Homo sapiens: one gene and its partner. The protein of the gene in region 1 purifies or fractionates together with the protein of each later gene. This does not show direct contact. Each region holds a gene or a part of one and is shown on either strand. Other genes may lie near its edges.

What was found.
Region 2: the proteins of SDCCAG8 (region 1) and ERC1 purify together in Homo sapiens (co-immunoprecipitation; one study listed by IntAct). This does not show direct contact.

What each region holds. Positions count from the first base shown.
Region 1 is NC_000001.11:243,262,541-243,266,040, reverse strand, and holds part of SDCCAG8 (serologically defined colon cancer antigen 8), read right to left. Parts: intron 1-3,500. UniProt on the Homo sapiens protein: Plays a role in the establishment of cell polarity and epithelial lumen formation. Also plays an essential role in ciliogenesis and subsequent Hedgehog signaling pathway that requires the presence of intact primary cilia for pathway activation.
Region 2 is NC_000012.12:1,081,723-1,085,222, forward strand, and holds part of ERC1 (ELKS/Rab6-interacting/CAST family member 1), read left to right. Parts: intron 1-1,441; coding exon 1,442-1,858; intron 1,859-3,500. UniProt on the Homo sapiens protein: Regulatory subunit of the IKK complex. Probably recruits IkappaBalpha/NFKBIA to the complex. May be involved in the organization of the cytomatrix at the nerve terminals active zone (CAZ) which regulates neurotransmitter release.

The DNA of each region.
Region 1 (3,500 bases):
AAATTTTTGTTGCGTTTTTAAAGAAGAAATGTATTCCATGGAGCTTTCAAATGACTTCACCTCTAAGGCAAGGGATAATTATTTATTTATACCTAGTCTGAGTAAAAGCTAATAAACTATATTAGGAAAAAGAAAAAAAATATGGAAAGAATTTGCATAGTTAAAAGCCTCTGTAGGCAGAGTTCTTTCATCAGATTACAAGAAAGGCAGGAGTTTTTTTTTTTTTTGGAGACGAAGTCTCCCTGTTGTCCCCAGGCTGGAGTGCAATGGTGCGATCTTGGCTCACTGCAACCTCCGCCTCCCAGGTTCAAGCATTTTTCCTGCCTCAGCCTCCCGAGTAGCTGGGATTACAGGCATGCGCCACCACACCCACCTAATTTTTGTATTTTTAGTAGAGATGGGGTTTCACCGTGTTGGCCAGGCTGGTCTCAAACTCCTAACCTCAGGTGATCCACCCACCTTGGCCTCCCAAAGTGCTGGGATTACAGGAGTGAGCCACCATGCCCGGCCTAGGGCAGGATTTTAAGAGCACTTTTCATTCCTTTTCTAATGTTCTTGTTTAATCTTTTAGAATTTATAACATTCAAAGACTACATGTTAAATTGCACTATGAACATAATATTACGTGAAATAATGAGCTATTGAATTCAACAACTATCCCAAAGAAAAGTGACACACAAGGCTTTAGGGTTTGTTTGTTTGCAACTACTGATTTCAGAGTTACTAGGGTCAGAGAGGAAAAGCAGGAATTTGCAAGAACTGTGCCCTAAAACTAAAACTACAGAGTTGACATTTTAAAGTCATTTCAACGCTACATTTCAAAACATGCTAAGTGCTTTTCAAATACATAACAAACCAGCATAATTATATACTATAACAGATAAACACAGTTAATGTGAAGAAGAATAACACTCAGATGATTCAGGACAGATGAAATCCCATGGCTCTTCAACTGGAGCCATTGCAACTGAAGCCCCCATAATCCTTATTAAGAGCACTACTCCCCAGATGCAGTTATCTGCTCCTTACATTTAAGGAAACCAGATTAGACAGAAGGTTCCAGTTACCGTTTCCTATCCAACTGCTAATGGGACACAGCTTTATCTGTTTCTAACCAAGAGAGAGAACACACTCATTTCCTCTTCTCTCCTGAGAGGACAGTAAGGGTATTTCACAATGAATGCATCCTGATTTCTTTTCCCCAGCACCAACCAGGAACTGACTATAAACTTAACTATGACTACAGACACAAACAGGACCCCTGAGTCCTACAGATCACATGAACGTAAGTGCAAGTAGATAATATTTCTGCTAATGCACTATCCAAACATCAATCAGTACAATGAGCACTTAAAAGGTACCTGAGCTAATGGCTGCTAGCTAATTTCAGTCTGTCTTGTCCATTTTCTTTCTTCTTTTTTTTTTGAGATGGAGTTTTCGCTCTGGTTGCCCAGGCTGGAGTGCAATGGTGCAATCTCGGCTCACTGCAACCTCCGCCTCCCAGGTTCAAGCAATTCTCCTGCCTCAGCCTCCTGAGTAGCTGGGATTACAGGCATGCACCACCACACCTGGGTAATTTTGTATTTTTGGTAGAGACAGGGTTTCTCCATGTTGGTCAGGCTGGTCTCAAACCCTCGACCTCAGGTGATCCTTCCGCCTCAGCCTCCCAAAGTGCTGGGATTACAGGCGTGAGCCACCCTGCCTGGCCTGTATTGTCCATTTTCTTAGTAAGAGTTTCCCTACTTCCTATGTTCTAACTCTTAGGTCACCACTGGGCCTGTCTTCATCAAGATGTTTTTGAACAAAATGCAAGTATGTCTCAGTCTAGGAAGAATCACCACTTAAATACACACTATGAATTATTAATTTCTTCATTCTCCATCTGTCCTGGGAGATGTGAAAGAGAATTGCCCTGGTGACAGGGAGGGGGACCACTCCCTGCGAAGCGCCCAGCTGTCTCTGAGAGAATATGCAATGAACCATTCCTCCCGAGGCCGAGATATGAGATGCACTGCAGCTCCCAGCACAAGCTTTGATTAGGGCAGACATGCAGAAAAATAAAACCACAGTGAGATAAGAAATACATGTCTATCTACACTTGACTGGGCCTCAGCCTGGTTCAGAAGATTGCTGTCACTGTTTACTAGGGGACCAACAGGTAACACTACCAAGATATAAACAGCAGAATCAAAAAATCAGACAATGTCGGCTTTGTGAAAGGCAATTACAATTGTGAAAGAGATTACAAGTACTATGTAGAATACTTTTTTGTTTGAATCTCAAAGAAAATACTATCCTAAGACTCTAATAACTGAAAACATGCTAAAGTGGTTGGCGCCAGGAGTAAAAGATAATCTGATAAAGAATGTAAACATCTTAAGAAAGCAATGTCTGGAAGACCATTAAAGATATGTGGGTGTTGGCAAATCCAGGAGATTGGCTATATGCATTCTAAGGGATACACCTGGTATTTCTTTGGCATCAGTGGAGAGGACTGATGCACCTGTCACTTTCCACTGATAAAAGAAGTAAACCTAGCCAGGCTGGCAAAGAACATAGGTAAAATCACCAGCAAATACAATCTGTATATCCTTACTTGTAATTACTGTAAAGTAGGATTCTTGCAGATCAAGGGCTACAAGCAAAGCCTGTACTTCTAGATCGTGATTTCTCAACCTCAGCACTATTGACAGTTTGGACCTGATAATTCTCTTTTGGAAGGGGCTGTGTTGTGCCAGTTTAATAGCATCCCTGGCTTCTGCCTACCAGAGGCCAGCAGCACTCATCTCCACCCCCAATTGTGACAATAAAAAAAAATCAATAAAACAAGACAGTTTTCAAGTCAATAAAACGAGATCAATAAAACAAGAGTTTTCAGTGTTGAGGGGAGACTTGCTATCACTCTGACCACATTACATTGTAAGTGTTGCCGCCTCTTGATGGAAAATGAGCGTGACAGTGAGCTATTCTGCCACAGGAGTGCTGGTGGGGAGGACACAGCCTGAGACCGACAGTGCCATGATGGGACACATCTGATCCAGGTGTCAGGAATAGGTGTTATATCTATCAGAAGCAAGAGCTCAGATTCATATTTAGCTTTATTTTGTTTCAGGGCCTAAAAGCAATATTTGCCCTAAGGCCATCCCTTTAAGTATCCAGTGGGCTTTGATGAAGTTCCGCCATCATCAGGATTGCTTCAGCCAGTGCACAAGGGCATTTCTAGCTACCTTGTCTACTTTTGGACTCTGAGAAGAGTTATCATCAAGTAAAATGGTGAAAATCTTAGCACAAACTGGCAATGTGATCAGACCATAAGTCTTTAAACATCCCAGGAGAGAATATTATTACTCTCAGTATCTCAATAGTTTGAAAAAAACTTACTCTATACCTATTTCTGACAAAGAACATGAAAAAGTACCCCTACAATCTCCTAACACTGAAACATACCTTTGATTTAGATTATTCCAGGGATGACTATTTACTTGTAGAACACTCATTTC
Region 2 (3,500 bases), on another chromosome or scaffold:
CAACAGGAATATAAACTTTTGGTTGAGATGAATAAACTCTACAGATTTGATGTATAACATTGTACCTGTAGTCAGCAGTAATGCATTGTACACTTAAAAGTTGTTAGGAAAGTAGATGTCATGTTAAGGGTTTTTACTACAGTAAAATAAAAAAAGAGTCCATGTGTCATAATGAAGATTAAATAACATAAAAAATGTGTGGTACAATCTGGCATATACAAACTACTTGTTAAATGTTAATATTTATTATTTAATGTTTATAATACTTAAAAGTCATTTTGTATTTCGCTGTCCTTCGGTTTTGCTTGTTTGTTTGTTTGTTTTGACACGGAGCCTTGCTCTGTCACCCAGGCTGGAGTGCAGTGGTGTGATCTTGGCTTACTGCAAACTCCACCTCCCAGTTCAAGCAATTCTTCTGCCTCAGCCTCCTGAGTAGCTGGGATTACAGGTTCGTGCCACCATGCCTGGCTAATTTTTCTATTTTTAGTGGAGACGGGGTTTTACCACGTTGGCCAGGCTGGTCTTGAACTCCTGACCTCGTGATGTGCCCGACTCGGCCTCCCAAAGTGCTAGGATTACAGGCGTGAACCACCGTGCCTGGCCAATTTTTGTATTTTTAGTAGAGATGGGGTTTTATCATGTTGGCCAGGCTGGTCTTGAACTCCTGGTGATCCGCCTGCCTCGGCCTCCCAAAGTGCTGGGATTATAGGTGTGAGCCCCCGCGCCTGGCCATCCTTTGTATTTTTTGATGAAAAAAAAAAATTTTTTTTTTTTTTTTTTTTTTAAGACAGAGTTTCACTCTTGTTGCCCAGGCTGGAGTGCAATGAGTGCAGTCTTGGCTCACTGCAATTCCCACCTCTCAAGTTCAAGCGATTCTCCTGTCTCAGCCTCCCGAGTAGCTCAGATTACAGGCACACGCCACCACGCCCGGCTAACTTTTGTATTTTAGTAGAGACAGGGTTTCATCATATTGGTCAGACTGGTCTTGAACTCCTGACCTCAGCTGATTTGCCCACCTTGGCCTCCCAAAGTGCTGGAATTACACAGGTGTGAGCCACCACGCCCGGCTGTTTTGATGAAATTTTTTGAAAGAATGTATTCATATTCCTGTAGATTTCCCATTTCCCACATTCCCTCAAATTTAGTTTCCGTGTTAATATCTTCTATTAATTTTGAACAGTGTCTTTATTGTAGTTTATGCAAAGTGAGGAGTGAGTGCCATACTTATTTTGCTTCCTGTTGAGAATAAACTGAAGTTAAATTACTGACATTTTGCATATTATCTCAATCATTTTTTAAGGACCTGTAAAACAGAATAAGGTGAATCCTAATTTGCTAGATGCAGATTTCTTGTAGCTATTTTTGATTCCTGCAGGCTGCTCTGATTTGCTACTTGAGGAGGAAAGCTGATTTGGGGGTTTTCTTTTTGTCTTGGTTCTAGCACATGCAGATGACAATCCAGGCTCTCCAGGATGAATTGCGGATCCAGAGGGACCTGAATCAGCTGTTTCAGCAGGATAGTAGCAGCAGGACTGGCGAACCTTGTGTAGCAGAGCTGACAGAGGAGAACTTTCAGAGGCTTCATGCTGAGCATGAGCGGCAGGCCAAAGAGCTGTTTCTTCTTCGAAAGACATTGGAGGAAATGGAGCTGCGTATTGAGACTCAAAAGCAGACCCTAAATGCTCGGGATGAATCCATTAAGAAGCTTCTGGAAATGTTGCAGAGCAAAGGACTTTCTGCCAAGGCTACCGAGGAAGACCATGAGAGAACAAGACGACTGGCAGAGGCAGAGATGCACGTTCATCACCTAGAAAGCCTTTTGGAGCAGAAGGAAAAAGAGAACAGTATGTTGAGAGAGGTATGTGACTACTTTTTTAGTTTTATGATTTGTTGGTTATCTTTTTTTTCACTGATTAATCAGCATCTTGGCCCCAGTGAATCTACGTGCTCTGCCGTGCTGGTGGAAGAGAATTTCATCCTTTGTATTTAAGTGCGTCACTGATTTCTGTTCTGATTTGCCCTGTTGTATGGGATGACATTGTCTGGTATGTATGCTGGCTCAGTGACTTTCTGGGTCTTTTCTCTCCTGCTCCCCTGATTTTGAGAGTTCATTTGTTGCTAAAGGGGTAAAAAATTCCTTGATTTTTCACTCATCTCTAGATCTGTTCATAGAGACAACAAACACAACAAAACCAGAATCAGAATAGCTAACCATTGCTTAATTTAAAAATATTAGTAAAAGAGAGTAAGCGGTTATCTCAGCTTATGTGTGCTTATAAAAGTCCTTGGCAGCAATAATGGATATTTGCCCTGTGGTTTCCATGGAAACTGTTGCCTTGCTGTAAAAGATACGTGATAAAAATCATTGGCTGCCATGGAGGCATAGCTGGAGAGAGTGATGTAGAGACACAGTGTTACTTATTTTTAGCTGACCTAGGTGACTACTGATAATTTTTTACTTTTCTAAATAATGTATCATTTTAAGAAGGCGTAAAGGAAGAAACCATCTTATATTGAATTAAAAAATTAATAGCCATAATAACTTTTCTATATATAGTTGGACTTCAGGTAATTTTCACTTTTGGGCAGGGGAAAATAAATCCCTAATCTGTGTTAGTATGAGTCTGAATAATTCCTTTTTAAATAAAATGTGAGGAAGGAGGTTTAAAAAATGGCGTATTCCCAAAGCAGCAAAATAATAATTTTTAAAAATACTTCTAAATTTGTAGGTTGTTCTATAATTTTTCCTTTTGTAAAAAGTCTGAAATCTTTTTTAACAGTGAGGGCATTTTTATTTTTGAAGTAGAACATCATTGTTTTTTAAAAACATGATGTTATTACACTGGAAATCCATTGTAGTAAAATTGGGAAATAGATTAACAAAAACTTATAACTCAAAGTATTGTTACCTAGTAGTAATTATTAACTTATGTATATGCTTCCAGTCATTTTTTTTTTATTTTAAATTTTTATTGTTTTTATTTTTAGAGATAGGGTCTCACTCTGTCACTCAGGCTGGAGTGCAGTGGCATGATCATGGCTCACTGCAGCCTTGAAATCCTGGGCTTAGGTGAGCCTTCTGCCTTAGCCTCCCTAGTAGGTAGGTCTACAGGTGCATGCCACCATGCATTGTTAATTTTTAAATTAAAAAAAAAATTTTGTAGAGACAGAGTCTCCCTATGTTGCCTAGGCTGGTCTTGAACTCCTGGCCTCAAGCAATCCTCCCTCCTTGGCTTCTGAAAGTGCTGACATTACAGGCAATATGCCTATGCCTGGCCCATTATTATTATTGTTGTTGTTGTTGTTGAAAGTGCTGAGATTACAGGCAATATGCCTATGCCTGGCCCATTATTATTATTATTGTTGTTGTTGTTGAAAGTGCTGAGATTACAGGCAATATGCCTATGCCTGGCCCATTATTATTATTATTGTTGTTGTTGTTGAAAGTGCTGAGATTACAGGCAATATGCCTATGCCTGGCCCATTATTATTATTATTGT